2 linked regions of the Homo sapiens genome follow. The protein of the gene in region 1 interacts with the protein of each later gene in a biochemical or structural test. Each region holds a gene or a part of one and is shown on either strand. Other genes may lie near its edges.

Region 1 (3,500 bases):
TCCTTATTCCTGGCCTTGGATACTAAGATGATTCAGAAAATTCAAGAGCAGATCCCCAGAAGGCTTGTTGGGGGCGGGGGTGAGCTCAGTGAACAGGGGGTTTCCTCCTTGCCCCAGAAATTGCCCAGGGTGTGGGCTGTCTCTGCTGCCCCTCTCCTGAATGCTCGCTCTGTCCTCCACGCTGTGTGTGATAGGGGCTGACCCTCCCTCCTGCCGTGTTTCCCTTGCCCCCAGCTCATCAGGGCACCATAGAAAAACTAGGACCTCGAAGACTCAGGTCCAAATCCTGGTACTATCAGTTACAAGATGTCTGACATTGAACAAGGGACTTTACCTCTCTGAGCCTCAGCTCCTTCATCAAAGAATGAGGATAAACCTACATAGGAGATCATTGGTATAAATCCCTTGGCACATAGGCAGTTCATAAATGATCATTCTCTTCCTGCCTTAGCCCCTGGCTTCCCTGCAACCCCATGAGAGAAGCAGCCAGGAATGCAGGCTCGGTGGGTCTAATTCCTACAGGAAAAATAAGGAGTCTATTTGCCTTTCATGTCCCTCCCCAAATCCTCTAGAACCCTGATGGTGAGTGTAAAGCAGTTAAGCCATTCTCTCCATGCCCTGCCTCCCAGTCCTGCAGTTTCCAGCTAGCCCTCGGTAGAGGGGCACAATTCAGAGGAAACTGTGGGTCTAGACTCTCCAGGGTGAAATGGTCCAGAGCTTAAGCATGCGGGTAAAATCTGATGTCCCTGGGTCTGAGCCCCCAGGTCTCAGTGTGACTCCTATCACTTCTAGCTTAGGACGGGACCTCTACAGATGAAGCTTGCCAGCCCTCCCAGATTTTCTCTGGAATCTCCCAGGATGCATCTCTGAATCTGAACATGAGATGATGCAGAAGGCATGTGCCAGATACTGGAAAATCAGCACAATGCCCTTTATTTATATGGCACTTATTTATTTTTTTATTTTATTTTTTATTTATACAGAACTTTTACAAAGTTCTTTCATGGATGTTATTTCATTGGCACTGGGTGGCAAGCCTGTGGGGGAGGTATTTTTACCATTTTGGAGATGAGGCAAATCAGGCCCAGAGAGGTTAAGGAACTTAGCCAAGGCCACACAGCTAGTTAGTGAACTAATAAGCCAGTCTTTCTGGCTGGTAAAGAGAATGTGTCTCCCACTCTGCAGTAGGTAGCAGTGGCCTTCCTGTCCTAAACCTGAGGTCTGATGTCCAGAGTGGTGAGAGAGCTGGGGGAGGGGCTCACCATGGGATGGTTGTGTTATGTGAGGACTGGATGCCCCGTGTGCTGTGCTGTCGACACTATTTCTAACCTTTGTCATATAAACAATGCCACATCTACTCAGAAAGGAAAAGATAAGAAGAAAGCCAAGTATGGCAGCCTGCAGGACTTGAGAAAGAATAAGAAAGAACTGGAGTTTGAGCAAAAGCTTTACAAAGAGAAAGAGGAAATGCTGGAGAAGGAAAAGCAGCTAAAGATCAACCGGCTGGCCCAGGAGGTATGTGTCCTGCCTGCAGGCCAGGCAAGCAACCCTGGGACACAATGTGGTCGTTCTCCATGTGCTCCCAGAGGACCAGCTGGAGTTGTTCTCCTCAAATGGCATACAAGGGTGGAGTGAGCCCTTTCCTGCTCCCCAGCCTGGAGAGAGAGATCATGCCACCTGCCCAGGGCCATCTGAGGTTAGCTCCTGGCTTAGGAATTGAAACTAATCTCCTTGCTTGGGGGTGTGAGTCTTGCTCCTGGCTTTGGAATTGAAACTAGCCTCCTTGGTCGGGGGGTGTGAGTCTGAGGTTAGCCTTTCTGACCAGATGGTAGGTCTCAGGTTAGCCTTTGATACACCTGGCTTAGAGATTTGAGTCTGTCCTCTTCACTCTACCCCACCAGAGTCTAAGGCTGGGCCTCTCCATCTCAGGTGTGGCTCTGAGGCTACTTAGAGTATGGTCTGCGGCTAACCCTTCTGCCTTGCTTGTAGCTTTGAAGTTAGGCTTCCACTGACCTGTCTACGAGTCTGAATCACTCTGGCCTCCCTTCCCAGGTTATTGTAAGACCAGACCCCCCCCCACCCAACTTAGCTTGGCTCTGAGAATATGGGTCTGAGGCTAACCCCCTTATGCAGGTGGTAGGTGCGAGGTTATCTCCCAATTAATCAGGCTATCAGTCTAAGGCTGCTCCCCTCAACATAGGGTGTGTCTAAGGCTAGACCTCATCAACCTGGGAATATATCTGAGGCTGTCCCCATGAAGACATGTCCAAAGCAACCTTACACCATGAATAATTCCTATGCTAGGTGAGATGGGTAACCTTAACTCCCCAGCTGTAGGAGGTATCATTGTTTCTGCTTCTCTTTAACGCATCCATGAATCAGAATGCCAATTTGATTAGATTATAAAACCAGAGAAGTCCTGGAAAATGTGAAATGCATTAGGTCTGACATTATGAACAAATTAGCCACAAAATTAAAAATAAGATTGAACTTATGCTTCTGAGGGCAAGGCAGAATGGAGCAGGAAAAAAAAGAGTCAAGTTAAACTCTTGGAATGTGCTGGGGGAGGCTACAAAAACTCCATTCTTGGAAAATCATAAGAGCCTCAGGGTTCATGGGGATCTGGGATCCAGCTAATCCCTCACAATACATAAGCCCCTTTTCTGATTTTGCCTACAAGTTCTGCTTAGTGAATTTGACACCCCGCCACTCTCTTCTCCCTTGCTGCTGCCTCCTTGAGGGCCAGTTGGAACAAGCCCAGGTCTCTTTCTAGATAGCTGATGCACCTCACAGTACTCTGGAGTTTCTAAAGGAGTGCTTTCATGCTATTTCTATCCACATGTTATTCAAATGTGCCCTTTGTCCTCTCCTTTCTGCGCCGATCCTGGGTCCCAGGTGTCTGAGACAGAGCGGGAAGACCTTGAAGAATCGGAAAAGATTCAATATTGGGTGGAGAGGCTCTGTCAAACGCGCCTCGAGCAGATTTCCTCTGCTGATAATGAGATTTCAGAGGTAACAGAGCCCTTCTTTCCACATAGACCCTCCTGCTGTCTTCAGAATGACCCACTGTGGGGACAGCGGGAGGTGAGATGACAACTAGCAAACGTCACTAGCCTCACAGTGCCCATCCACTGTCCAGGCCCACCCCTACCACCCCACTCCCCTCTTGAGGAGGAGGGATATGTCTGTATTTCTGGGTATACTCCCAGAGTGATCTCTAAGTCCCAGCTCATCTGCGATAGTCTCAGTTAGGCCTGTTGTCCTGGCATCATGACTAAGAGTCCCCCTTACACTCTCAAGGGCATTCCAGTTTAGAGAATGAACTCTGTGAACACCTTACCACCCACAGATGGCATAACTTGGGGCTCTTCTGCATTTGGGCACTCCCTAACAGCAGCCTAGTATGGCCTCAGCTGGGCATCCAGGTGGCAGAGGAATGGCGCCCCATGGTTCTGATGTAAGGGTGGTGGGTCTCCAGTAGCAAGAGAAACAGATTAGAA
Region 2 (2,194 bases), on another chromosome or scaffold:
CTTCTACTAAAAACCTTGGCAAATCTCCTAACTGCTCCATGGCTTACTTTCTTTATCTGTAGCATGAGGTTGAAAGAATAATTTCCTTATGGAATTGTAATGAATATTAAACGTAGTGCCCAGCAAATAAGTTGTTATTAGTTTGAACAATATGAAATCATTGCCTTTGTAGGTCAAATATTGGCAATTTCAAATGGCTCAATCTAATAGGTATTAGATGTTATTAATTTAGAAGACAAATGAATGTCATTGAAAGGTTTTGCCCTCTGTAACTACATCCTATTTCTTGTTCTTTCCCATATATATGCCTCCACCTAATAGTTATACCTGCTGTCTTTATCACTTCATCAATTGCATTGCAAGGGGCTTCTTTCCCCTTCAGTTTCAAAAACCAATCTAAATAGCCCTAAACCAAATTAAACAGTAATGACACCTAACTGAATATTTCATAGTAGAGCCAAGAGATAATAAAATATACCACTATATCAGGGAAAAACATATATATATATATAATGTTTAATATTTTTTCAGCTATGGGACCAGACTTGTAATAAGTAATACATACATATGGGGAATTTTATAAAAATATTTCAGATAATTCCTTCACTCATTCATTTATTCTTTCATTCACTTATTTATTCAATCAATTTTTATTGAGCACATCCTACGCACAAGACACAATATTAGGTACAGAAAAGCTATAAAGATAAATGTGACACATTCTTTACCATTAATAATAATATATATTATCTAAAATTTAATTTGAGCTAATATATAACTGACAATGAAATATTTGGACCACCTAAAACAAGGATAAATTATTCTGTGACAAGTTTATATTCTTGCATTATGCAAAAATGATTCGAAAATAAACTATTTTTTTCCCAGAAATTGTATGAGCTATACATTGCTATGTAACAAATTGCCCCAAATTTAGCGGCGTACTACAACAAACACTTCTTATCTCATACAGTTTCTGAGGATGAGGAATCCAGAATGGTTTCCTTGGGTTTTCTGGCTGAAGGTCTCTCATGAAATTACGGTCAAGCTATTAGACAGGGCTGCAGTCATCTGAAGGCTTGACTGAGGCTGGAAGATCTACTTCTAAAATGGCTGTTGACAGGAGGCCTCAATTCCCTGCTGGCATTTGATAGAAGGTCTCAGTTCTTCATCATGTAGGTCTTTCCAGGGCTGCTCAGGACATGGCAGTTGACTTCCCCCAGAGCAAGTGGTCCAAGAGAGAGCAAGGAGGAAGCCACAGTGACTTTTATGACCTACTTCAAAGTCTCACAGTCTCTTCCATTTTCCTGTATTAAAAGTAAGTCCCTAATTGCTAAAAGAGTACATTTTTAAATGTTCTCACCACAAAGAAATTATAAGAGGTTATGGATATGTTAATTAGCTTGATTTAATAATTCCATAATGTATACATATATAATAATATAATATTGTACCCCATAAATACATACAATTATTATTTGTCAATTAAAAATAAAATAAAAAGACGTAAGTCACTAAGTCCAGCCCATTTTCAGGATGAGGAAGATTAAGCTTCATCTCTTCAAAGGAGAAGAATCAGACTTTATGGATATAAAACTACCACAGAAGTGATGTTAATGTCTCATTTGAATAATTGATTTGAAATTTTTTGCATTTGGTAGAACTCTGTGCTTGCATGTGCTTGTTACTTTTTTGTTCATAAGTTTTAAATAATAACTTTACTATTTCCTGATGTAAAAAGTAACAAATATAAACTATAGAACACTTAATACAGATAGGGAAGTTAGAAAAACATGAATCACTCATAATTCTACAATGCAGATATAGCCATTTTTAACATGTTTTTATTTCTTGTGTGTATATATATGCAAATATTAGTGTTCACACACACAAATACATATATATATACACACACATACATATATAATATATATGCCTTAAGTACATAATAAATATTTTGGAACATGTGTATGTGTATATTCTTATTTAGATATATAAGAATTTACCCCTGTAATTAAAATTACTTGGAAACAGAATTTTAATGGCTACATAACAATATACAAATAAATGTTTATTTCCCTCTTTTTTTTTTTTTAGAGACGGAGTCTTGCTCTGTCGTCCAGGCTGGAGAGCAGTGGCGCCATCTCGGCTCATGCAACCTCCGCCTCCCGGGTTCAAGCGATTCTCCTGCCTC

Evidence for each region.
Region 2: the proteins of USH1C (region 1) and RASSF6 interact in a test that uses a peptide from one of them, tested with the Homo sapiens proteins (one large-scale study listed by IntAct).

The regions. Positions count from the first base shown.
Region 1 is NC_000011.10:17,509,917-17,513,416, reverse strand, and holds part of USH1C (harmonin), read left to right. Parts: intron 1-1,362; coding exon 1,363-1,515; intron 1,516-2,895; coding exon 2,896-3,012; intron 3,013-3,500. UniProt on the Homo sapiens protein: Anchoring/scaffolding protein that is a part of the functional network formed by USH1C, USH1G, CDH23 and MYO7A that mediates mechanotransduction in cochlear hair cells. Required for normal development and maintenance of cochlear hair cell bundles.
Region 2 is NC_000004.12:73,571,050-73,573,243, forward strand, and holds the end of RASSF6 (ras association domain-containing protein 6), read right to left. Parts: 3' UTR 501-2,194; downstream 1-500.